Linked DNA regions of Homo sapiens: region 1 is linked to region 2. The links come from fine-mapping of genetic effects on gene expression. A gene starts in region 2. The other region holds a variant in brackets. All regions are shown on one strand. Distances are between the middles of the regions. Region 1 overlaps CEMIP2 (cell migration inducing hyaluronidase 2). Region 2 holds the start of CEMIP2 (cell migration inducing hyaluronidase 2).

The links. PIP is the estimated chance that this variant, and not a neighbour inherited with it, causes the effect.
Region 1: its variant is fine-mapped to the expression of CEMIP2 in whole blood (INTERVAL, PIP above 0.99).

What each region holds. Positions count from the first base shown.
Region 1 is chr9:71,674,480-71,689,689 of GRCh38, reverse strand. CEMIP2 (cell migration inducing hyaluronidase 2) reads left to right here. Exons shown (of 24, transcript NM_013390.3): 23 at 3,844-3,947; 24 at 4,297-6,324. The coding sequence ends at 4,493. Among named protein-coding and RNA genes, the nearest start is that of CEMIP2, 86 kb to the left of the region's middle. The variant A/TTA (reference allele first, on the strand shown) is at 4,295.
Region 2 is chr9:71,759,361-71,771,896 of GRCh38, reverse strand. It overlaps CEMIP2 (cell migration inducing hyaluronidase 2), which reads left to right and starts at 3,384. Exons shown (of 24, transcript NM_013390.3): 1 at 3,384-3,540. RefSeq lists enhancers at 2,363-3,044, 3,045-3,726, 8,651-8,795, a silencer at 2,620-3,289 and a cis regulatory region at 8,717-8,730.

The sequences.
Region 1 (15,210 bases), 84 kb after region 2:
TTGAAGTGATTTTCCAGGCAGTTTACCTTTGCAACCCTCTGTCGCACTGACGGTCTTGGACAGCATTGCACTATGATTGTGATACAGGAAGTCATCACCTGGGTCACTTGGAAATGACTGGAAAAGAGTAAATTGATTTTTGAAGTGGCTGAGTGTGCAATCGCTCTTACAGAGCACTAGTCTGATTGGTTTTCTTTGATGTCTCTGAAGAAAGCTGCACAGGAGAGAAACCTTTCTTTTTCTGGGTTGGTGAGACCCTGCCTGGAGGCAAGGAGATGAACTCAGGGTGTTTTCTGCCTTTGCCGCAGATGTTGATTTATACACCCGCTTTCATTTAATGGAACCATTAAGGAAGGAACTTAAGCTTTCCCCAAATTAAAGGCCTATCTAGCTTTAGAATCATTTTCCAATAGCTTATGCTTTATAGAACCGGATGCCAATAAATTCTATGAAGTCACTGGATTATTTGGATGTAACATTAAATGTATATATGTCGTTCTGTCTTCTGGCTTAAGACACTTGTACAGCCTCAATTTTCTTGCAGGATTTAAAGATTTTTCCTAATGTTGAAAATACATGCACTCACTTCCCCTAAAACAATCCAGGACATAAATCTCACCACAAGTATTTAGGACAACATGGTAGTCCTGCAAGGTACCCCATAGATTTAAGAGGTAAAACCAACTCATTAACAGAAAGGCTTTTAAGATACTGGTAATGCTGTTTCTTGATCTGCCTCTGGTTATGCAGATAGGTTTCGTTTGCAAAAATTCAGTGTGTGTGTAACATTTTAACAAAGTGTTAAGAAGGTATGGAGCAACTGGCAGTGACTTCTAGGGAGACTGAGCACGTGTCTATGTGTATAGGGTTGCGGGGTGACCTGTAAATGATCTTATGGGTAATTCTGACCTATTGAAGAAGGTCAGGTCTGCAGGGTAGCCGTGCTTAGACTGCTGCACTAATTTTAGATTGTGTCACCACTGCTTTAGAAAGACTACAGTAGGCCAGGCACGGTGGCTCACACCTGTAATCCTAGCACTTTGGGAGTCTGAGGCAGGAGGATCACCTGAGGTCAGGAGTTCGAGACCAGCCTGGCCAACATGGTGAAACCTCATCTCTACTAAAAATACAAAAAACTAGCCGGCATGTTGGTGGCACCTATAATCCCAGCTACTCGGGAGGCTGAGGCAGGAGAACTGCTTGAACCTAGGAGGCAGTTTGCAGTGAGCCAAGATTGTACCACTGAACTCCAGCCTGAGCAACAGAGCGCGACTCTGTCTCTAAAAAAAAAAGAAAGAAAGAAAGACTACCATAAAGAACCCATACCAGCATGAAACTTAAGGTACTTAATCTTAAGAACCATCGAGACCCACATTAAGACATACCACACAAATTTCAACTTCCTGTAGGTATCCTTGATGACTCTGAAAATAAATCAATCTAATGTTACCTTTTAATTAATAAGAGCTACTCAGAGCCCCCTAAACACTGATTTGTTCTTGAAAATTTTTGTTTCAGTAATACCGGCCAAGAGTTCAGGCACAGTGGCTCATGCCTATAATCCCAGCACTTTGGGAGGCCATGGCGGGACGATTGCTTGAGGCCGGGAGTTCAAGACTAGCCTGGGCAATGTAATGAGACCCTGTCTCTATGAAAAATTTAAAAATTATCTGGGTATGTGGGCACATACCTGTAGTCTCACCTACTGAGGAGGCTAGGACAGGAAGATCCCTTGAGCCCAAGAGTTTGAGGCTGCAGTAAACTATACTTGCATCACTGCATTCCAGCTGGGGTGACAGAGCAAGGACCCTATCTCTAAAAAAACAAAAGAAAACAAAAATAGTTGCCCAGGCTGGAGTGCAGTGATGTGTCCACAGCTCAATGTAGTCTTGACCTCTCAGGCTCAAGTGACCCTCCTACTTCAGCCTTCCAAGTAGCTGGGACTACACGTGCACACCACCAGCCTGGCTGGTTATTTTTTGTTTTTGTTTTTGTTTTTAATTTTATTATTTTTCTAATTTTTTGTGGAGATGGAGTTTTGCTGTGTTTCCCAGGCTGGTCTTGAACTCCTGGGCTCAAATGATCCTCTCATCTCAGCCTTCCAAAGTGCTGAAATTAAAGGCATGAGCCACTGCACCCGGCTGGCCAAGAACATTTCTGATTAAAGTTTTTGAAAGAGTGAGTTTGTATGTGTACACACACACACACACACACACACACACACACAGAAAATAAATACATTATTAAATATATTGCTAAAGGATATGCAACAGAAGTTGAATAAAAGGAGAGACTCTGTTTCTGAATGGAAAATTAATAAATGTTAATTTCATGGACCAGTTTCATGGAAGATAATTTTTCCATGGACTGGAGGTGGAGGGGGATGGTTTCAGGATGATTCAAGTGCATTACATTTACTTAGTTAAAATATAAATTTGACACATTTCCATTAGTGTCCCAAAAGGTACTTTTCTACTGTACTTGACAGTTGATACTGTAGTTCATCTGGAAGAATAAATGAGAAAGTAGTAAAATATAAACAAATTACAGTAATACAAGGGCTTGTTTTTATCAAATATTAAAATGGACCGTGAAGCCATAGGCCAGCATAGTTTTGGCAGAGAAGAGCAAGATCAGAGAAGAACGGAGAATCCACAGATAGGTCCAAGTATGTATGTTGGCTTACTATGTGACAAAAATGGTAATTCAAACCATGGAAAACACATTTAGTCGTTTATTTATTTTTAGAATTGTGTTTATCCATTTATTTAATAAATAGATAATAGAACTTAAATAAATAGAGTATTTGAAACAAAACAAAACCATTCTCCCATGTTACAGTAGACTTACTCCCTGATAGACAATGGAGAAGGAAGGGTGAGGGGTGGATGACAGGAAATTACTGAATAGGCACAGTGTACATTATTTGGGTGATGGATACCCTAAGTGCCCTGACTTCACCACTATGCAATCCTATGTATGTAATGAAATTGCACTTGTGCCTCACAAATTTATACAAATTATAAACAACAACAACAACAATAGACTATTCCCTAAAAGAGCTGTGCCCCAGACCATCCACTAGGTCAGCAGTCCCCAGCCTTTTTGACATCAGGGACTGGTTTCATGGAAGATAATTTTTCCATGGACTGGAGGTGAAGGGGGATGGTTTCAGGATGATTGAAGCACATTACATTTACTGTGCACTTTTTTTCTATTATTATTACATTGCAATATATAATGAAATAATTACACAGCTCACCATAATGTAAAGTCAGTGGGAGCCCTGAGCTTGTTTTCCTGCAACTAGATGGTCCCATCTGGGGGTGATGATCAACAGATCATTGGGCATTAGATTCTCAGGAGCACACAACCTAGATCCCTCACATGTGCAGTTCCCAATAGGGTTCTGCTCCTATGAGAGTTGAATGCCACAGCTGACCTGACAGGAGGCGGAGCTCAGGCTGTAATGCAAGTGTTGTGGGGTGGCTGTAAATACAGATGAAGCTTCGCTCGCCTGCTCACCTCCTGCTGTGCAACTTGGTTCCTAATCTACTGGTACCCATCCATGGCCCAGGGGTTGGGAAGCCCTGCACTAGGTGAACGTACGTAAATGATTTGGTTTATGTATGCGTTACCCCTTGTAAGAGCAACGTGTGAAGCCCATGGTGGTGGGGTGGAAGAGTGGGAATTGGATGGAAAATCATCTAGACTTTTTTCTTTTTGGAGTTCTGCTTTTATCTAATATTTCTATTCAGCAGTCAGTTCAGAAAGATACTCAGTAGAAAGATACTCATGCTGAAGGATTGAAATTGGCTCTGACTTTCTAAATTTCACATACAGGTCCATTGTTCTGTTGAGCACAAGAGGAGAAATAAAGCAGTTAAACATTTCACACTTACTAGTACCTCTGGGATTAGCCAAACCAGCTCATCTTTATGACAAAGGTTTGTATTTGTATTATTTCATGAAGTTCTTACAGGGCCAGCAACATAGGTAATTTTATGGTGCAATTCAGCTACCAGACCATTTTCATGAGCTTGTTTGCTGGAGTGGGTATCATTAAGATGATTTCTAAATAAGGGCACAATGTGAGAGGAAGTGTGTTGGGATGTGGTTTGTTATCTGGGGCAAAAGGTGGGTGGTGAGAGTTCATTTGCTGATGTAAGGAAGTGCAGAGTTTTTTAATAGCTGCCTTTGTTTTGCTCACCTCCGACTCACCTCCTATATTCTCTTGCTGGAATGTAGCTATAAAAATTGATTTTTTTTCTTTTTCTTTTTTTTTTTTTTTTTT[A/TTA]GGGAGTACCATATTTTTGGGATTCAGTGGAAACTTTAAACCATCATGGACTAAGCTATTTACCAGTCCTGCTGGACAGGGCCTTGGGGTGCTTGAACAATTCATACCTTTGCAGCTGGACGAATATGGTTGTCCCAGAGCCACCACTGTCCGCAGAAGAGACCTGGAACTGCTAAAGCAAGCTTCAAAAGCACATTAGAGACTAACTGTAACTTAAGTGCTGGGGGAAAAAAAATGTGAACTAACTTATTTAATTTATGGCATTTTAAAATGACACTGTTAACCCAACGGAACCATTTTCCAGTTTGATACAGAATGGGGAGAAAAGAAAGCGTTTGAAATTATTGCTTGGATACCAGCTTCATGCACCTTCTAGTTGTACAAAATGTTAAAGACGTTGTTTGTATTTGTAAGGCTGGTGTATTCAGAGAGCAGATCTCTTATTCCTCACTTTCCACCCCCGTATTTTGTAATGACCATGAGCAATGTTTTTACTTTTTGTATAATGGGGTGGGGTGGAGTGGGGGCTTCTGAGAGTCAGCCTGAGGTCTTTAGAGGACCAGCTATTGTAGCACCTTGGATACTTGAAGTTTAATGCTCAGTTGGGTCGGGTGGCAGTTGACTTGGTGGCTGGCATGTTCAGCAGTGCCTGGGGCCCTGTTTCTGGGCAGCCTTTGAGGATTTTCTATGATATTGAATGACAGTTTTAAGTGGCAACTCAGGCCCAGCTCATGCCCTTTTTTGCCTGGACATGTGCTATTTTTATTCACTTATATATCAATTACTTGTAAGGGTTAAACTTTCAAACAGGAAGTATATTGGGACAAAAGGGCTCTTGGGGATTAGATATCCCTTTAATCTGTGACCATTGGGCAAAAAATTTTCCTGCAGCAAAAGTCTGAGGCTGTTGGGACCATTTTTGCAGCTTTAATCCTTAGCCTCTTTTGACTGTATATTTGTGTTTAAAATGCAGAGCTCAACTGAATATTTCCTTTTTTGTTTTGTTTTGTTTTGTTTTAAGAAGTAGGTTGTTTTCCTGAACCGTAAACTTGTATCATTTTAACTTGCACAAAGGAAGTCTGTTCTTGGTATTGCTCTTGCACTTGGGTTTTTTGTTATTGTTTTGTGTGGATTTTTTAAAGCTTTTCTGTTCACCCTCCTGCCAGGAAAATCCCAGAAAGCTTAATGATACCCCAAAATGATTACACCCAGGGAGGAAAAAAAGGAGCGCTTTCTAGGGTCAGAATCGTGGAGAGAATACTCAGAAATGAACCTCTTTAAAGCCTTGCAGGAATGAGTCACTCTTACTTAATGAAATGTTAAAGCCAATTAAAAAGCATGCTGTGATGCCCAGCTTCCCTTTCCACAGGGTGCATGCGTCTCCTGCTGGTGAATCACATGCGGCAAGAGGCAACTGGCTCCACAGCCTGGGATGCTGCCGTACCAAGAGGAAAGAAGCAGCAAAATGCCTTTACGTTGTTCTAAACCCCCGACGCATAAAGTGTAGAGGAGGGATGGCCAAGGGTGGGTGGTAGAAAGTGTGTTCAGGCTGACACTGGCAATGAGTACAGATAATTTCACTTTCCTCTTCTAGGGGCAAAGGCTGATGGCCTCTACCTTTGTATCCAGGAGAAACTGCAGAGCAGCCCTGTGACTTTACAAAATATGCTACCTCAAAGTGCTACCGATAAACCTTTCTAATTGTAAGTGCCCTTACTAAGGGCACATGTCTTAATCAAAGTTAGTTTTTTGTTTTCTGGTTTGTTTTTTTTTTTTGTATATTGATGAATGAGATCTTACCTATTAAATATATTATTGGATTATGGTTCCTGAAGGTCATTAGAGTGTGTGTGTGTGTGTGTGTGTGTGTGTGTGTTTTATGACTTAAATATCTTTACGTGTGTTTTTTAGAGCTTGGTTCTTTAAAGATTTGGAGAAGATATGTAAATTACCAAGGCACTTGGTTTTTCTGTTTTATATACTAATAATCAGGGCCTAAGTTAAATAAAAATATGTGTGCATGTATTTTATATATGTGTGTATGTGAATTTATTTATTATTTATTTTATTATTATTGTTATTATTTTTGAGATGGAGTCTCGCTCTGTCACCCAGGCTGGAGTGAGGTGATGCAGTCTCAGCTCGCTGCAACCTCCACCTCCCAGGTTCAAGTGATTCTCCTGCCTCAGCCTCCCAAGTAGCTGGGATTACAGGCACCCGCCACCATGCACTGCTAATTTTTGTATTTTTAGTAGAAGTGGGGTTTCACCGTGTTGGCCAGGCTGGTCTTGAACTCCTGACCTCAAGTGATACTCCTGCTTTGGCCTCCCAAAGTGCTAGCATTACAGGCATGAGCCACCGCGCCTGGCCTGTATGTGAATTTATATCTCTATCTATAAATTTAAAATTCCAGATTCCAGCTGTAAAGAAGTTACTGACGGAAGTGAGGAAGACACTTGGTGGACAGAATCCACCAAGTAAATATTGTAAGAGTAAGCTTCAGAAGGGCAGGGACTGTATTCTCCAAGGCAGAGGTTCTCCATCTTGGCTGCACACTGGAATTACCTGAGGAGCTTTAAAAAAAAATATAGAGGCCTGGACTTTACTCCCTTCCCCCCAGATTCAGATTTAATTGGTGTTGGGTGCAGCCTGAGCACTGGAATTTTTTTTAAAGCTCCCTGGATGATTCTAATATGCAGCCAGGTTTCGGAACCACGGCACTAATATAATAGGCCCACTGTTTAACTCCAGTCTGTAATTTTTTTGTGACTAAAACAAAATTGCATTTACCTATTATTTTTATTTGCATTTCCTATATTACTCACAAAACTCCCAGCCCTAAACAAAGCATTTCTCTATTGTCTCTTTTTAATAGAAGCTTTTAATACAGTTTTTAGTCCTCAGTCCTCTCAAATCATTAAATTGGTTCTATACACTGATATATACATTTCAGGGAATTGGGAGCTAGCAATCTGTTCTATTTCTACCAAGAAAATATATTCAAAGGTGATTTATAAGTTCATAAGCATTTTCCATCAGGTGAGGCAGTTGGTTGAGCTCCAAAAATGTGGTCGTCCACAAATCAGCCAGCTGACGAGCAACACAGAGGGCTCTCATGTATCCACAGACTAGGGTTTAAGTCTTTGCTGTGATTCCTGCCTCTCCACCTGAGTCAGCATGCCATATATTATCTTCAGAGGCTGGAAGAGAGTGCTGGCAAGAAGATGAAAGGCAGACGCACCATCTCATGGACTATGACTGCAAAGCAGCCTCTAAGCTGATGTTTAGACTCGGGGATGGGAAGAGAGGATTTATGACTCCTCTGTTCTCTAACTTCATCAAGAGACAACACATCCTCATGCCATTAAAGTGGGTTACTTTGTCTTGAGGAGGGGAAGGTAATGAAGTGACAGATCGAGGCTTGAGTGCTTTAGATAACTACAGTAGGTTTTCATTCCTTAAGAGATGAGGTCATGTTTGGATGTGTCTGGTTGAGAAGCATTTCAGTAAGAAGGAATGAGCTTAGTTAGTTCAAGTGTTTTTTTCTGTTGTTCCTAGTAGATAAACACAATACATAGATTCAATGATGACAATGTTTGTTAATTTCATCATGCAGAGTTGGAGCTTACTTCTGGAATTCTTATTTGGTTTCCAGATACTTATTAAACAATGTTTAATAACCTGAGAAATTCCCCTGGAGGTAAAGACCTTTAATAGGGCAGCAGATTTGTATCATTACTGTTAGTTATGATTACATTATTACTGTTATAACCCAGTGTGCTGGAAATGTGAGCAGACACTATTTAAGCTAGTTTTCAACAAAAGGTCATGGAGGGAAAAAAAATAAAGGAACTCCATTCCTGGTTCCTTGCTCACAAATGGCAAAATGCTGTTCACAGACTTGCTAGACCATTTGAGTCATTTGGAAGAGAAAAGGTTTTTTTGTTTTTCCCTTATTTATCTTCAATTTGAGAAAAAAACTAATAAAAGGATGCTTCAGTAGGCCCTGGTGTTGTGGATAAGGGCACGCACACTTTTTATTTTTATGTGGTAAATTTAGAGAATGACTGACTGAACTGTGATTTCTAAATGAGGAACTGTGCCCCACAGGACATCCAAAATTATCAGCCATAGCAAGCTGTGAACATGTTATATCTGAAAATACAGCAAAGGGTGGACCAGAAAACATCTTTATAGATGTGTTTTTGTAATTTTCCTAAGAGGGACAAAATAATTAGTCTAAATATGAAAAATTAAGTTTTAAAGTTCATCCATAGAAAAGCTGGCTTCATGATCACAATTGAAAAATCCGAGTTGGCAAACCTCTGCCTGCAATTCTGAGCTAGGAATCATTTTTATGTTTTTAAATATAACAAAAGAAAGAAAAAGAAGAGTAATATTTTATGTGGTGAAAATTCTATGACATTTAAATTTCAGTGTCCATAAATCAAATCTTATTGGAACACAGCCAAGCTCATTCTTGTATACTTATTAACTGTGGGCAATTCCTGCTGCAGGGGTAGAAATGAGTAGTTGCTACAGAGACTGTCAGTCCAAAAATATGTACTGTTAGGCCCTTTACTGAAAAAGTTTACCAACCTTTGATCTCAGTGTAGTGTAGACCAGCGTTCATTGTCCTGTTCTTGGAACCTTACCACATTGTCAGAATTTTTTAAATAGCAACTTAAGGAAGAAACCTGCATCAGAATCGCCTGAGGTGCTTGATGAAAATGCAGGATCCCAAGCCCCAGCTCAGACAGGAGAACTGGCGTTTCCAGGAGTTGTGAAGCTGGGAATATTATGTTATAACAAGCTTTCCAGATGTTTCTTGTGAACACTAAAGTTTGACCATCTCATAGCATGTAGTGAGGCTGTTCTTCCTTTCCCTCTTTCCCTTCAACAGAGAACACATCTGAACAAAATTGATTTTTTTTAACCTTAATGATTCTATCTACACAGTCTTCCCTAGAACTTTTTCTGACTAGGGCAGATTTCATATTGGGCAGAGTATGTGGCTGTTACTGGGGCAAAGGTTTGGAGCCCGTGATTAAGTCCTCCCGCCATGATGCCTGAAATACCACTACAATGATTCCTTTGGCTACAGTTATTCCTACTCTGAAATCCCAGCCATTCTTTATTTTCTGCAAGTTTGTTTTATTATTTTAAGGATTTTGAAGGAAAATGTACATTTGGCCACAATTAGGCTGCACAGACTAACAAAAACATAAGTTTATTTGCTTTTTGATGAAACTATCCACCCTTTTTACTAATTTTACATTTATTGAAGCTCTGATTGATAATTTCAGATGTATTTTTTTGTGAGGTAGAATGAATCATTTCATACAAGCAGTTTGCTTTGTAAGCAAAAACCTTTTAATGCATGAACTTTATGGAGGGCTGCAGGAGGTGGCTGAGTAGTGGATAATGAGATTGACCCTTGCCAGGGAAGAGGGTGGGTGTGGGAGGTTCACCTTCTCCCATCAGCCCATGTTGATTGTCAACATCCAGTTCCTGAGGGAGGAGCGCCTGGGTCAGGTAGGTTTCTGATGTGGGAGAACGCAAGACTTCCAAGTCTTAGGAGGCAAGAAACATCCTTAGCTCCCACTATGGGTAGGAGAATGAGAGAATTCCGATGGGAGAGAAAGATGACAAAACTTGTTGACTCTTTCAAGAGTGCATGCAGTCAGTTGTTTTTTAAGTAAAATAGTTCTTAGAGGAAGTGAAGTGGAGTCAGGGTAAAGTGTCTGATACAGTTACTTGCTGTAGGTATGGTTGTTTTGCTGACCAATCTAGGTTTGATTCCGCTAAGGCTCTCTACTTAGCGGTGGTCCTAGGAGCAGCTTCCTCCTGAGCCTCAGGTTTCTCATCTATAAAGTGGATCCATTAGTAACTTTTGTGAAATTACAGGGGGGATTAAATGAGAACAGCTGTGGCTCCTGAACATGGCTGGTCATCAGAAACACGTGATGGTTTGTTTTCTAAAAAATTAGATTTCTAGACTCCTGTGAATTCTAATTTAGTAGTGTTTTTGTTGTTGTTGTCTTGAGGGTTAAGGATTAGGGAATGTGGATTTTTAAAAAACAAACTTCTAAGATTATGCCAGTTTTGGGAACCACTGAGGATACCTGATGCAAACCCTGCCCTAGTTTCGACACACTCTGTTGCTGTTACTTGTATCTAGAAAATGAGACCTCAGGCCAGGCAATACCCATTTACTGACTTGGTTTGAACATCACGAGGTTTGCATTCATGCTCTTAGTTGCCCTAGCACCATAACTCAACAAATCAGCTGTGTACAGACTGGAGCTATGAAATGTGGAAAACAAACAAACGTGGAAAACATGTGGCTTTACCCTGTTCTGCTGCTAGTATGTATAGTTTTTAGCTCTTCATTCTTGTGAGAGGAAACTTTAGTTCAGTTAATAATTTGTCTATTCTAACCCCTCTGTACCATAAACTAACAGGGATCAGAAGCATCTCATTTCTAACTATCTCTCAGGTTTTTTTTTTTTTTTTGAGACAGAGTCTCGCTCTGTCGGCTAGGCTGGAGTGCAGTGGCACGATCTCGGCTCACTGCAACCTCTGTCTCTCAGGCTCAAGTAACTCTTCTGCCTCAGCCTCCTGAGTAGCTGGGATTACAGGTATGTGCTACACGCCCGGCTAATTTTTGTATTTTTACTGGAGACGGGGTTTCTAGTTGGCCAGGCTGGTCTTGAACTCCTGACCTTAGGTAATCTGCCCACCTCGGCCTCTCAAAGTGCTGGGATTACAGGCGTGAGCCACCGCACCCAGCCCACTATCTCTCAGTTTTTTAACCACACACAATTTCACTTTTCCTTCCTATCAAGTAGGAAAAAATGCTAACATGTAGTGAAATGGTTTAGAGCTAAGGTTCATATAACAAGCTGAGCTGAGTTGAAGGACTTGGAAAATGAGTGCCTTTGACAACAAACCTTCCCGTGTTTCTGTGCCCCATTTCTGCTTAGTCACACCTCTGCCCCCTCCCAACTGCCCAAGTTCCACTCCTGTGGCCCTTGTTATACTGGAAGACCACATTCCCAGAACTGTTTCGTAACTCATGCTCCACTGCTGCTCACATGTTTTCTTCTAACCCTCAGGATCCTCAGCCCTTGCTAAAGTATTTCAAAATCAGGTCAGTCCTTATGTCTAAAACAAATTGTCTCTTGGGAGACAATGTGATTTTAAATATCTGCCCACAGCACCTTATAGTTCTAAAAGTAATGTGTATCTGGAATTTTTGTTGACATATCTGATTTGTTGGCTTTTAGAGGACTTTTGCCCTCCAGCAGCATATCGACCTCCATATGAGACTGATTTCGTCTGTGTGTAGAGGAAGTTACAGATCTGGAAAATTCACACCCTGGAGAACTAGTCACTGGGTAGTGAAGTCAGTACATCTACAGGATATGAGTATTTGTACTTGAGTAGAATCCCTTCTGATTACCTTCCGGAAGGTCATGGATTATACTGTGATTTTCCTCCAGCTTAAGCAATGTTCTCAGAACACAGATACTAGATGAGAAACAGTACCTGGCTCTGAAACATATAATCTACTCAGATTCCAGGCCCAGGGTCCTGGCCACAAGAAAGCATGTTTATCCTAACATCTTCCTGGAAGCTGTGCTCTGTGAGCACTGGAAAATTCTTTCTTTTTGTAATGTCTTGCATTTCTATAAGTCACCTGTTTTAATAGCTAAGAGGAAGAGATTTGTTAATTATAGCTTTCCTTTGTTGCAGCTCTATATTGAAAACATATGCCAGAAAAGTTAAGGAAAGATGCAAGTGGATAGATGATACATAAACAGGATTAGGAATCATGAGGATTAGGGGCTTCCTGTGCAGTTTTTTCCAGGAACTGACCCCAGGAAGAGGGTCAGTTACCAACATAAAATTATTTTTGTGAGGGGAAGGTGTGATTTTATTATATTGATTATATTTTATTTTATAATCAATATATTTTATAATCAATATAATTATTGATTATATTTTATTATATAGATTATATTGATAATCTAAATTTTCTGGCTGTTGTTTCACATTCCTTGAAATGAGTCAATTTGTTGATTTCAGTCATAATTTACTGTAATATTATCTAAAATAATTGGATTTAAAGTCGATAACAAGTGTAAGTGTTGGATATTTTGGAGAGTCAGATTCTAAATTAAGAATTTAGTATTTTTATTGTTGCTACCTAACACAAGAGGCTCTTTTTATTTGGTGCTAACTTTATCTGTTTACAGAAGACAAGTGGCTAATATGAAGCATAAAGGTAGCGAGTTTTAGACTTAAAGAATGGTAACATTGGAAGTAAAAAATGAGGAGGAAGAACAGTGACTCTACCTTGGTTTTCTTTCAGTTTTCCTACCATCTCTGCTCTTCCACTAGCAGGTCAGAGCCAGTGGACTCTATCTATTCATTGAATTTCTGAGTGTGCTTCAGTGAGAGAATATTTTTCTAAACAAATTCTGCCCTCCTTGTTACTTTGTGTGTATGTGTGTGTGTGTGTTGCTCTCATAGTCTGAGAGTTCATTTGTTGTACTAATGTAATTATCTTGCTGAGGGCTACAAAAATAATGTTACACTGGTGTGTGTGGTAGGTAGACTCCTGCTTCAAGGGAAAAGTTAAATCTGTTAATTACCATGGGGAAGTTAGCTACTTAGATATACCCACCTGCTTAGTATGAGTTTCTAAGTTTAGAAGGAATGAGGGCTTAGCTTCTCTCTGTGGTCAGACTTCTGTGAGTCAAGTTGCATTGAAATGGGCTGTTGAATAGTGGATGTTAAGGTTTCAGGTACCACTTGGAAAAAGAACAGGTTATAAAGGGGAGGCTACCCTGTATTAAAGAATATCATCTTCCCTGGACTCTGGCATTCTCTTTTGTTTACCAAAGCCAAGGATTATGTTTCTTAAAGTGAGGTTTATGGCCAATATCCATCAGAACTATGGAAATTGCAGATTTATGGACTCCATTCTAGGTGGATTGCGTTAGAATCTTGGGTTGAAACCTAGAAATCTGCCCTTCAACCTAACTAGTGGAATGAGTCAGAGAACCTGGAAATGATGTGTGACAAAGATGGCATTAAAAATCAGCATGTAAATGATAAATTATTCAATAAATAATGTGAGAAAAATTGGTTTTCCATATGGAAAAAAATGTGATTAGATCCCTACCTCACACCGTGAAACAAAATAAACTCCATCTCACATGAAAAGTATATTCATCCCAGTAGCCCCCAAAGTTTTACCTGATTCCAGCATCAACTTTAAAATCTAAGTCCAAAGTATCATCTAAATATAATTCAAATCAGATATAGGTGAGACTGAAGGTATGACTCATCATGGGGCAAATTATCTCCAGCTGTGAACCTGTGAAATCAAATATGTTATGTGCTTCCAAACACAATGGTGGGACAGGAACAGGATAGACATTTCCATTCCATTTGTAATGCCATCTTTGTCACACGTCTATTTCCAGGTTCTGTGACTCATTCCACTAGTTAGGATGCTTATTTAAGGGCAGAAGAGGGTAATGGTTCCTGAGCAATTCAAAACCTTAAAGCTTGAAAATAATCTTCTTTGACTCGAGGCTCTTCCTGCCAGTCCTAGCGGGGTTGAAGTTCCCCTTTCTGAACCCACTGGGGCATGGCCTTGCCCTCATGGCTTTGAGGAGCCCCATTCCCATGGCAGTTCTCTTAATGGGGCTTTGAGCAGGCCCCATCTCCATGGTGGCTCCTTGCCTGGGTCTTGAACCTGCAGCTCTCCCCAGATATAATCATATGCCAGTGGCTCTAACTGTTGGTCTCAATGTGGCCATGCCCCCCATGGCTCCACTGGGAATTGCCCTAGTGTGGGTTCCCTGCAGTGGCCCCACCTCATGGCTGCTTTCTGCCTGGGCTCCAGGCTCTCCAGGTCATCCTTTGAAATTTAGGTAGAGGGAGCCAGACCCTTATAGCTCTGCTGGGTGTAGTGCATATTGAATCAGGGCCACGAGAGCCACACCTGGGGCAGTGGAGGAGCATGGTGACAAAGTGCAGGAAGCAGAACCTTGAGGCAGGGCTGGGCAGAGGGTGCCAAGGTCCCAGGGGTGCCAATCACCCCTCCTTTGAAATCATTCTCTCCCCCAGGTCCTTGCACTTGGGCCTGTGAGTGGCAGCCCCAATCTGAAATGCCTTCAGGGTCATTCTTCTATTGTCTTGATGAGTAACACCTGGCCAATCCATACTAATTTCCTTATCAAAGGGTCATTTGGCCACACCCTTGGTGTTAGCTCCCAACACATTTCTCACTTTTTACAGTATACACAGGCTGAGAATTTTCCAAATCTTTAAGTTCTGCTTCCTTATTGATTAAAAATCCATCCTTTATTCATTTCCCCTTTCTCACGTTTTACTATAAACATTCAAGAGAATCTAAGCCAGACCTTCAACACTTTGTTTAGAAGTTTATTCAACCAAATATGCCATTTCATTACTCATAAGTTCTACCTTCCACAAAAACACTAGGCCAATAATATAATTCAGACAAGTTATTTGCCACTTTATGACAAGGATCACCTTTCTTCCAGTTTCCAATAGCGTATTCCTCATCTCCATCTGAGACCTTATCAGAATAGCCTTTACCATTCTGTTCATGATCATGTAGGTATTCTCTAAGAAGATTCAGCCTTTCTCTACAGCTCTTCTGAGCCCTCACCAGAATTACCCTTTATGGTCCATTCATGCCAACATAGGCTTTTTCTAGCGTGAATCTCACTTCCAGCCTCTATCAGCCAGGTCCAAGAGCTACTTCAACATTTTTAGGTATTTGTTATAAAAGCACCCCACTTCTTGGTACCAATTTTGTTGTAGTCCATTCAGGCTACTATAAAAATTACTGTATACTAGGTAGCTAACAA
Region 2 (12,536 bases):
AATTCTCCCGCCTCAGCCTCCCGAGTAGCTGGGACTACAGGTGCGTGCCACCATGCCCGGCTAATTTTTGTATTTTTAGTAGAGGTGGGGTTTCACCATGCTGGCCAGGCTGGTCTTGAACTCCTGACCTCAGGTGATCCGCCTGCCTTGGCCTCCCAAAGTGCTGGGATTACAGGCTTAAGCCACCGTGCCCGGCCTTTCCTTTGATTTTTTATGTTCCAGATAAATATCTAAAAACAAAAGTTTATACAATTCTCAAAGATAGGCCACACACAGATTCAATCCCCCTACCCTTTTTTTTTTAGTTAACAGACTATATTTTAGAGCAATTTTAGGTTCACAACAAAATTGAGCGCAAGTGTAAAGAGGTCTCCTACACCCCTGTTCCCCACTAGCCCACTCCACTATCAATCAACATCCATTTCCCTTGGTTTGGGCAATAAATACAGATTGTGGAAATAAATAAGTCCTTTTTAAAACCAAAAATTTTATTAGACTAATGTATATAAATTTTTAATTGCTTGTTTTGTTTTGTTTTGTTTTTTTGAGATGAAGTCTCGCTCTGTAGCCCAGGCTGGAGTGCAGTGGCTCGATCTTGGCTCACTGCAAGCTCCACCTCCCGGGTTTACGGCATTCTCCTGCCTCAGCCTCCCGAGTAGCTGGGACTACAGGCGCCTGCCACCACACCTGGCTAATTTTTTGTGTGTTTTTTTTTAGTAGAGATGGGGTTTCACCATGTTAGCCAGGATGGTCTCTATCTTCTGATCTTGTGATCCACCTTCCTTAGCCTCCCAAAGTGCTGGGATTACAGGCGTGAGCCACCGCGCCTGGCCTAATTGCTATTTTTAACATTTGAGTGGTTTGCAGACTTGATTCCAAGAGGTTCTTACTGTGTGGCCTTGGGAAGACCCTTTAAATTTTCAAGTCCTACTGTCCCATCTTTAAAACGGAAATAATAATTAGTGGGAGGATTTAATTAGACAACATATCCCATAACATATCCTAACTCCAAGCAAAGTGCCTGGCACTTAATAAGGATTCAAAAAATGGATATTTGTAATATAAAGTTGGCCCAGCACAGGCCTCCTATGCTGCAACATATCACCCAAACTCAGTGTAGCTTACAACTGAAGTTTATTCTTTCACACTTCTGGAAGCAGGAGACTGCGCTCAGTTTCACTGGGCCAAAATCAAGGTGTCAGCAGGATCTTGCTCACTTCAGAGTTTCTAGGGGAGAATCCTTGCCTCTGTGCTGGCATTCCTTGCCTTGTGGAGGCATCGCTTCAATCTCTGCCTCCACAGTGGCCAGCCCTCCTCTGTGTGTGCTAACCACCCCCTTTCCCCTTATAAAAGTACATGTGACTGCAGTTAGGACCCATCTTGATCATCCAGAATAATCTCCCCAACTCAAGAAGACCCTTAATTGAATCACATATGCGAAGGCCCTGCTTCTGTCTATGTAAGGTAATATGCACAAGTTCCAGGACTTAGAACCTGTTATCTCTGGGGAGGGAACATTTTTCAGCCTAGCACACGGGTGACACAGTTTCTATCTTTATTAAGCACAATCCAAAACACCTTTGGACCATGAAAACAGTCTTTTGTCCCTTCCATCTTGTTATTCAAAACTATGTTCCTTATTTTAAAAACCTTTCCTCCCTGCCTATCCCAGAAGGGACAGCGGCTCTCAAAGGCAGCTGGGTGAAGTTTCTGTAAGATCTCAGCACTAGCTCGCGCTGCTGTTTTGGAGGCATCTTTCCAAGGCTTTAATTAATTAGAGGATGCATTCTAGCCCTGTTTCCCAAACTTACATATTCCCGATACCTCTGATTCAGTAGATTGCGCGACGTCTGGCAATCCAATTTTTTCTAAGTGCCCCAGGGGATTCTTATCATCAGCCAAGATTTGGAAACAGTAATTTCTTATACAAAGTCCTGAACTAATACCCTTGAAATAGGGGATTCCCCTTCACTGCCGGGTGTGTCGCGGTTACAGGACTGAGTTTGTTGAGGGAGGAGGAATGAACAACCCTGAAAACTAAACTATCCTACCTTGTATATTATTCACTGAAAGAGTTTCCTGGAGGGAAAACTTCCAATTCCAATTAAATCGAGGATGACGACGGCCCGGATTTGGCAGTCCTGCAGCTGTCACTAGCTCGGGACCTCGTGCGTCTGAGTGATCCAGCCCGGGCCGCGCCCTCACCCAGAGCCAAGGCTGTGAGAGCAGCTCCAGCGAGGGGGCAGGGTGGCGGCGGCAGGGCTGCTTCAGGGCCGGTGCCGGTGTCCTCAGAGCGGCGTTTTGGCACTGGGGTGGGCCGGGGCGTGGCTTTCGGCGCCACCTCTGCAAGCGGCCGCCACTCCAGAGTGGCGCAGGTAGGGGGCGTGGGAAGACCTAAGTATATTTATTCCGGCCTGCGAGCGGGATGCTGGGGTTGCTCCAAGGGACCAGAAGAGCTGCCCTGTGTCCCAGAGCAGGCTGGTTCTTCTGACAGCGCTGAGAACCTGGCGCTCGCGCCTGGCCAGGTAGGGGCTGTGACTGGACGCTCAGAACATTTGTGGGAGTGTGGAAATCTCTTTACGGGTGATGGGGCTCAAAGTCTGACGCAGCCGAGGGTTGATGGGGTGCAGTCACGCTCAGCCAGGGGACTTTGGGGGCGCAGTGTCAGGCTCAGCCAGGGAGTGACAGGCGCAGTACCAGCCTTATCTGGGGGTGCTGGAGGCACAGGCTCCGGTTCGGCCAGGCGGGTGTGCGCGCCCAGGAAGGGTAGGAGCCTGCAGCCGCAGCGGGGGGCGCTGGCTGGGGCTCTGCCCCGCCGGCAGTGCGCTCGGGCGCTGTTCCAGCGCGCGGCAGCGAGTGGCGCTGAGCCTCCGCTTTCGCAGCTCGCGGGGAGCGGGGCCGGCGGGAGGGGCCGGGCGGGGCCACCGCCTCCTCTGATGGCAGGCTCCTCCTCTCCCTCCGCCTCCCTCGCTCTCCACCGCCCGCCCGCCCGCCCGCCCAATCCACAGTTCCCGGCCCAGCCGAGCCGGGCTGCTTGTCTGGCCGGCGGAGGCTGAGCGCGACCCTAGCAAGCCGCGGCGCCCGCCGACCAGGGACAAGAGCGACTCCTGGGACCCCACTCTGCCCCGCGCCGCCGCCTCCTCCCCTGTTGTCGCGGGGACGCTCAGGCCCGCGCCGCCCGGGCCACGATTCTCCTCCTCTTTCTCCCGGAGGGGAAGGAACGGAGAAAGCCGAGCGGCGGCTCCGGGAGAGAGCGAGCCGAGGCCCCTGCCCCCGAGGCTCGGGGCAGGAGGAGGAGGAGGAGGAGGAGGCGGAGGCGGAGGGAAGTGCGCGTCACTCTCGGGAGGAGAGTATTTCACCTCCAGGCAGAGGCTGCGGCTGCCAGTTGAGTACGAGCGGCAGCTGCGGGCGCCGGCAATCGAGTGGCTTCCTGGCCATGGAGAGGAGATCTGGACCCGAGGACGCCAGGGACTCCTCTCCGTCTCCCTGGACCGCTGTGTAGGCACCTGAGTTAACGGACGCTAAGCGGGGTAGGGGAAGGTAAGAAGCGACTCGGTCACCCGCCCCCCCACCCCGCTCCACCTCGTTTGCTGCCCTCGGGGGCCACTGCGGGGACGCAGACCCGGGTCTCGCCCACCTTTTCTGCTCCCGGCGGCCTGGCCGGCTCCGGCGTTGGGCATTTCTGCCGAAAAGGAAAACGTCCTCCCGCCCTTCCCCCGTGCGCCTCCTTTCCCGGTTTCATCTCTGGATTGGGACTGACCCGACTCCCCAGGAGTCAGTCCTCTCTTCTTAAGAAAGGGTCCTCGGGAACGGTGTCTTGATTTCTTTCTCTCCACTCTCTCTTTTCATTACGTTTACGGGGAAGGGAACAATGGACCTTTCAAAGTCGGTGCGAACAGCCTTAAACTTTCTGGAGAGGGATGGGGTGAGGGGATAAACCCCACAGTAAGCCGATTACAGTGAAAGGTTGATGGAATGTGCTTTGCAGTCCGGGCTTCAGTGCGCGCGCGCTTGTGCGTTTGGGGTCATCTTTGTCTCCTTACAATTCCCCTGGGTTGGTGGGTCCTCCGCCCTCCGCCCCCTGCCTCTCTGTTAGCTGAGGTAAGGTGAGGCTTTAAAATCGTGTACAGCTTCCTTTAAATCTGGGGAATAGCCTTAGCCCTGGACCCTATTCCCAGCTTTTCTCTGCAGAGTTGGGAGATCCTGGTAAAGGAGGGGGGCCCTCTCTGTGAGGACCCAGAGTGCTGCTGTTAATAGCACTAGTGGCTACACCCTTAGCGATAAAACCAAGGTCCTGAATTCCCTGGATGCTCTCTGCTGAGGGTTGATGAGTGTCACCAGACTTCGACCTGGAGCGGAAACAGCTCACTTGAATTCTCCGCAGGTTAGGAAAACAGACTTTGATATATATCTCCTTTTATCAGCAGTTGGGATTAAGGATAGACTGCCTAATAATTTTTAAAACTTTCATTGTGCACATGAGCTACTCACTGCCTTGAGTTCACTCCCCTTGATTCAGTGTGACAGAGTGATGCGCTGCTGCACAGTTGCATGTATTGAGATGTGCTGCTCTTCCCGGTAAAAAGTGAGAAGAATTTAGAGAGAGGGGAAAGGGTAGAGGCTTCACCTGAGCTGAGGGAGGCCTGACTCCCCAGAGCAGCCAGGCAAATCTGTTGGAAATGGCTCAGTGTTAAAAAAACACCTTTAAAATGGTTAGCCTTATCTTTCTTTGGTTGGCTAGAATGGAGCTACTAATGCTTATTTGACCCTTGAAGGACGCTTGTTCTTTTCAGAATTGGTCTGGGTATCATACTGTGGTTGTGGGTCTGATTACCTATACAAAGGGTTCTTTTTAGTTTGCATTTCTGGGCAAAGCAGAAGAATGTGTAGTAGGCATGTCCTCTGCTTAGTAAACATTGGGTAGCACTTTAGAGTGCTTTTCTCTTCACACCGAAATGACTTCCCCCAGCTTCTGTGTACCTGCATTAGAGGATCAGTTTGGGCGGAACTGGAAATCTGTCTTCTGGCTTTCTGTTCAGTCCTCCTGACGCTGTTTTTTTCTGATGTATGTGTGCTTAAAGGCTCAGAAAACTAAGATTAGAAGCGAATTCTGAGTCATCACCTGTTCTTATTAACCTGTGAATGAGATAGTGAGCTGAGGACTCTCCTGTGTGTGGACAGGGAAATAGAATCTGTAAATTCTTACATGGTGTTTATCTGGATATTCTGTGTCACAGTTAATTATTTGAGTAGTCTCCTTCCTTGATCTAGTCTGTAACCAGTGACTTTTCAGAAATGTCAGATTCATAACAGGAAACCAGAATGGGGCAACACTTCAGTCATGTTCTAATAGGCCTAATCAATGCTGTCCTCAAACAGCTATCAAGAAAAGACAAGCTGGAGGGTAATGTAGTCTTGTGGGCCATTATCTTGAAGTTGACAGGGTACTGCTTAGAGCTACATGCTTTGGGCAAGTTTCTGAAATTGAGAAAGACAAGCCACATTTTAGAAAGAGGAAACTTAGGCCGGGCACAATTGGCTCACGCCTGTAATCCCAGCACTTTGGGAGGCCGAGGCAGGTGGATCACCTGAGGTCGGGAGTTTGAGACCAGCCTGGCCAACATGGTAAAACCCTATCTCTACTAAAAATACAAAAAAAAATTAGCCAGGTGTGGTGGTGCACGCCTGTAATCCCAGCTACTCGGGAGGCTGAGGAAGGAGAATCGCTTGCACCTGGGAGGTGGAGGTTGCAGTGAGCCGAGATCGTGCCACTACACTCCAACCTAGGTGATGGGAACGAGACTCCATCTGAAAAAAAAAAAAAGAAAAAAAAGAAGAAACAATAATCACTACCAAATTCATGGTCTTAGACTCACATGGAGTGCTGTATGTAAATGTGTGCATTGTGATGTGTGCTCTAAAATATGTATGAGCATTGCATCATTCACCCACCCACCATCCATTCAGCTAGCACTTATTAATCACCTATTGTGGTCCAGACCCTCTGGAAGCAATTGCAACACCTGCTTTGTGGAGCATTCATGTTGGTAAAGAGAAGGAGTTGAAGTGGTTGCAACCCGGGAGGCCACAGGGATTGAAGATACCTGTGTCACTTGCAACTAGAGAGATGACAATCTCTGCTATTGAAGAAATGAGCCTAGCCCCGGACATAAGGAAATGAACAATTAGAAGGTCCAATAAGTGCATGTCTGGGAGAATTACGCACAGAACGCTCTAAGAAGCCAGAGAAGGAACAGTTGGGGGTGGGGGAGCAATTTTGTGAGAAATAAAATTTGTTAAATCAGACAAAATAGTAGGGACTGAAAACTAGTGTCAGAAGTACTATCTTAAAATGGTGAAGATTGGAGGACTTGAAGTCAGACTTGGATTTAAAACAAGGCTTGGCACTTGCTAAACATTTGCTGTGGGCAAATCCCCTAATCCTTCTCACGTTGTTTCTTCACCTGAAAAAGGAGTTTTAAAATGCTTTATGGGAATGTTTTGGGGATTCAATTTGAGTAAGTTTGCTATGTATTAATATATGATAAAGTACTGTACAGGCTAATGCTGTCTGGTATCAAAAGGTACTTTCAAAAGTTTTTTAAAGCTATAAATAGATATAAATCATAGCTTAATCAGGTCTCAGCTACAGATTTTCATTTTATTGGCCCTTTCCAGAATGATCTGAATCCCATCTTGAGAGCAAGTCTTTAGACTTTTAAGCTAGTTACTGTCATATGGTATTGCTCTCTTGTCCAGGCTTCTTCCCATCCCAGCCACAGGAAATCTTTTCATTTCTCTTGGATTGTGAGCATTAGTGAGAAGAATGGGCTGTCTAGTACAGTACATCAATTGAAAAGGTCTTGTCTGGTTTTGTACGGTAACATCCATTCTCCCCTCTGCCTCCCAAGCCAAGCTAGCCCTTCTGTTTTCCTCTCTCTCAATATGATGAATATGGAAAAGGAAAAAAAAAAAAAGGAAGAAAAGCTATGCATCTGCCTTTTTGAGAGTATGAAAATCCCCATTACTAGTTTTCTCCATTTGTAAAGAGGTATAATTTTCATCTAGATTGTTAAAGTCTATTCTCTCAATAGCAGCAGCTGCTGTCTAGGCGAATCTGTTAGCAATACTCGCTTTAGTTCTCCACTTGAAATGGACTTAAGCCCATCTGACATTTTAATAAATTGCCTTTGATAGAAATCCAAACTCAGATATTTAAAACTATCAAGTGAACTGTGCCCTTTTGCCAGGGGTGCGGTGGGGAGGGGGGTAATGAATGTAAATCAGTTTTCTAGACACTGCTACATATGCTGAATCTTAGCATGTCGCTTGAAGGGACCTCAAAGATAATATTAAAACAAGGAAGTTGGGACCCAGAGAGGCTAAATAATTAGGTAAGGTCATATAGTAAATTAATAGCCAAGCAGGGACAAGAACTCCTTTGTCCCTGTTTCCAGTCAGCACTTTTTTTTTTTTCTTTCTCAGATATATTCTTATTTTATTCCTGTTTGGCTTTGTTAGCAATTTAATTAGTTTAATGATCAGATAATTTGTATTTGGGCTTTGAAAGTCACTGCTTTCAGGTTTAAGGCAGACACTATGTATATTTTTTCATTGCCTACTACTTACACATGATGGTGGGGTGATGTTACTTGTAACAAATTTCTGGGAAATAAGGAACTAAGTGTAAAAATAGCATTAGCTTTACTTGTATTTTCTATAAACAGGATGGAAATTTAAAGTACTGTAGATGTGCACATTTTTTAGAAGAAGCAAGTTCCTGGAAACCCTGTTCAGATTTGGCTTGTGAATCATAGAATAAAAGCATACTAGAATATGTTTGCATGTTCTTTTTTTTCTTCTTCAAAACTTATGGCTGTAGGTCATGTTTGCTTGTTCTTTTGTTTTCCTGGTACTTGCTTTGGGAAGCCTTTAATATTGGTTGTCAGGAACTATGTTCAGCAACTATTTTATTGCATTCCTAGGATGTGCAAGGCACTGTACTGGTTGCTGTGAGCAATACAGAGATAAATTAAGCATAGGGTTTTTATTAAAATGTCTTTAAAAAAAGTGAAAGACTCATAAACTGTATGTCTTAAAACACAGAATTGCTATCTCCCAACAAATCAGTCCTTTGATCTATAAGGCAAATCTGCTTTGAAATTGTTAATATTAGGGTAACCTAGTAACCAGATTTGTAACAAGACATTTATTTTCTTTACACGGTGAAAAGTGATAAACCTTTTTACATTTGTTGTATCAAGGGTCCATTGTAGTTTGAACAATAAGTAAAAGTTCAATATTTGATAAGAATTTTATGTGAAAAGTTTGCCTGGTAGAGATTGTGGCATTCTTAATCCTCATATTTTTTAATAAGGCTTTACCACTGGTTAGAAGTGTCATTAGGATGTTGTTGCCTGAAAGAGTTGAAATTTAAGACAATCCACATTGAGCCCATGAGAAAAGAATTGACCTCTGACTGAGTTTCATGTAAGTATCTTAAAACATATGAATATCCACTATAAATTTGATATCGTGGTCAGGTCAGATTAAGTCCCCCTCCAGTGTGAAATTGTTATCGATTTGGGGGCTCTTACTTAATTATTGGTGTGCACTTTGGAGACAGCAAGCCTTCTGTTGTCTTAATGGTCTCTGTAATGGTGATTCACTTCCCTGAAGAATGAATCATTTTTTCACATACAATGAAGTTTGGAAAGTTAATTATTAACATTTTAGGAATGGGAAAGATTTAGCTTAACACAGGGACATATGCCTGATTCCTGTTTCAGGAGGAATTAGAAAAATGAGTTCTTGAGGTTTTCTTTTTTTTTTTTTTAAGTTGTGGTTTGAAAAAACATAACATTAAAAAAATATATTTTTTTGAGACAGGAGTCTCACTCTGTCACCCAGGATGGAGTGCATTGGTATGATCACAGCTCACTGCAGCCTCCACCTCCTGGGCTCAAGCTATCTTTCCACATCTCAGCCTTCTGAGTAGCTGGGAGTACAGGCATGCACCACCATGCCCAGCTAATCTTTATATTTTTTTGTAGAGATAGGGTTTCACCATGTTGCCCAGGGTGGTCTTGAACTCCTGGCCTCAAGTGATCCTCCCACCTCAGTCTCCTAAAGTGGTGGGATTACAGGCGTGAGCCACTGCACCCATACTAACATTGCTTTTTAATGCCACCAGTGCCACCACTATAAAATCAACTTTATATGAGGATTTGAAAAATATGCTTGAGCAGGGCTTGGCTGAGTCTGAGGTTGGCTTTAATCTTCAAGTGTTTTTTCTTGCCTCCTGTTAGTGCTTGCAGCACTTGGGCTTGTCACGTAGCCCCTGTTTGCCTGTTATGCTGCTGCTAGCCAGTTTTTTTTTTTTTTTTTTTTTTTGGTGACGGGGCTGGCATGGGGTCTTGTTAGGTTACCCAGGCTGGAGTGCAGTGGCTCTATAGTAGTCCTAGCACACTATAGTCTTGAACTCCTGGGCTCAAGCCATCCAACTGCCTCGGCCTCTAAGTGGATGGGACTACAGGTGCACATCATTGTTCACCTCTTCCTAGCCACAGTGTATCCCTATTCGGCTAAGTGAAGTCCAGCTGCCACTCTAGTGCTGAGTAATTACTTGTTCATTAGAAGTTCTGCCTTTTGACTCTGTAGCACCCTTGAGTCTTGAGGAACATAGAGGAAACTGTTGAGAATGTGTAAGATGGCCCTTTTGTTTGGCTTAGGTTTCACGTGGCCTAGGAGGAGAGGGACTATGACTGTTTTATATTCTGGCCTGGAACTCACCTGCAGGTGACACCCTTTCAAAGAATATGAAAGACTTCTGTAGTGTGTCACCCTCCCCTCCCTCCCATACTTTTTAGTCACTATTGGGCAACGTGTCGTCATTTAAATGGCGGAGTTCAGTGGTAGACTTTAGTTTACACATGCAAAATAAGAAAGATATTAGTAATCGTCTGGTGGTGCACATTTGGGTGAGTAAATTTGCCAGGGCTTTTAGAAAATTAAGCTCTATTCCATTCATAGGGATTTAATAAACTCAAGCAATCACCTCCTCAGCCCACCTTCTTTGCCTCAACATTCAGTTTAATTACTTGTTTACTTGTGTTGTCTCCCTACTCTTTCTACCCCCAAATGCTGGGCTGTGAGCTTCTTGAATGTAGGAACCATGTTTATTTTTTGTACTATTGGGTCTCCAGTGTCTAGCAGAACCCTTTTCTCATAAGAGATGCTCAAAGCTGACCTTGTGCCCTGTTTGAAAAGGCTTTATTCCAAGTGGTTTAAGTTATATTAAAAATAGGCTATGTGTTACAGTTGAAAGAAATAGTCAACTTGGGTTCTGGTCCTGGCCCTGCCATTGATAGAAACTTTACTATGATGCTGGATTGAACAGCCTTGGATTATTTCAGTCTGGGCATCTCATTATTCATTTGAAATATTTCTAGTGTGAAAGGCACATCAAAACATACCCCTTCTGTTTCCTATTGTCATTGCATTTTGGTATCTGTACATCACTAGATCATGAACTTTGGCAGGTCTTTGCTTGTTTTTCAAACACATCCCTGTTGTCTTTTCATTTTTCCCACCTTTCAACATTTTGCCAACATAACTTTCTTGGTTTTTTCTTCCTGAGAAGTATTTTAATGCATTGTCTTTGGCCCTCTGCAGAGAATGCAGCCCACAGGCAGTTCTGCCCTTTGCTATAACCTTAATTAAATCAGCCTCTGTCAGGACAGACTTCGACTTTGGTTCTTTCTTTGGAAGGCCAGCTGCAAGGCTGGTGACGCGCCTGCACTTGCCATTGTGTGCCTCTGCACTGCCATCCGTCACTGCCAGCAGGTTGGAAGCCTCTCTTGAATCTTCCCAGCCAGTTGAGAACAAGGGCGAAGGGGGATGGTCTAGGATCACTGGGAAGGAAGGGAGAAAAGAGAACAGCTTTTCAATAAAAAGAATTAAGGAGAAAAAGAAATATGAGAAATATTAATAGGAAAAAAGGAAACCGAAGGGAATAGAGAATGACTGGTAGGTACAACGACCTTTTTCCCTTTTTTCTAATTTTCTGGGTTGAAGAACAATCTATCTCTCTGCAGTTTATCTTCTAGTTCTTTACTTCCACCTAGAGGCCTATGTACTTTGCTCTCTTTTTATTTTTATTTTTGGTTGCTCAGAGAGTGTTAGCTGTTCTTAATTGCTACCCTTCCTCCCCGCTTGGTCTGTAGTAGGTCTGCAGTTTTTTCCTTTTATGTTTTTCTTTTTTTGGGCATGATAATACATTTTAACCTTTTGGCCGTATCAGCCTCATTGGCTTTAGGGTCAAGCATTACTTCTCATAGACTTGTTTAACATCGTTGGAAAAAGATAGGATTAATTAGTATATTTGGGATCAGAAAAATTAGACAGCTGCCTCCTTTACCTTGCATAAATGACAGAAACATAGGAATGAATTTTAAATATTTCTTTAAAGTCATTTATTTCACTTTAAGAAGTTTTCACTTGGTTCACTTTTGGCATTAAACATTATAAATAGCAGCTCTTTGTTTTGAGGGATTCATATTTTAACAGGAGAGTCCAATGTGATTTGCCGAAGATGTGGCCACTTTAGTGAAACTGTGGCTAAGTTGCTCATCTGAATTCCTTAAATACAGACCATAGGCATTTCTTATTTTGTTATTATCAGGTTAAGCAAACTCTTAGTATTTATAGTTAATTTTTGTTTTTCCAGAGATTTATTTCCTAACTATAGTTTTTTAGTAGTTTTCTAGCAAAAAGACTATAGCTTAATACAAAAGTAAATTTTTAAGCAGGAAAATAAATCTTTCAACTTTAAATAATACTTATTCTAATCCAAAGCTTAGTATCTTTTTTTTTTTTTAAGTAAATTTAGTCTTTTTAGGACTATAGGTTTGAAATATTCTGAAGAAAATAAAAATACTTCACCGCAATATATGGCTTCCCTGGTAAAATGAGTATTTTAAATTAAAAGCCTTTAGAGATCAAAAAGTTCCTGGAGAGACTTTTCCCCTACTACAAAGATAGGACTGACCCCCTGCCATCCCCCCCCCACCTCCCCGTACCCCCCAACAAGGAGAACAATTATCCCTGCTTCTTTCCCTTTTATTTCATTATCCGTTGCAGGAAGGACCAAAAATCTAACCACATCCGAACAGCCCTATTCAAGATAAAGACTACCTCCACGGATCATTTAAATTCCAAAAAGAACTATCTAGAAGTCAATTTCTGTTTCCCCATCCAATCATTCTCCCTAGTAATCATTTATTCCCTCAATAGAATTCCTCCTCTTCTCCTTCCCATAACCTTTTTTACCAGGATCCAAGCCCTCATTCTCCCTGGAACCTCAGGATATCATACAACTTCTGTGCCTCATTGGGAAGTTGGGTTTTCCTTCTGAAGGCTCCCATGCTTACACATTAAATATGTCTTTTCTCCTGTGAATCAAACTGCCTCATGGCAGGGATTTTAGTGAACTTTCAGGGAGCCAAAAGCCTATGACCCCCACAGTTTCTTATACT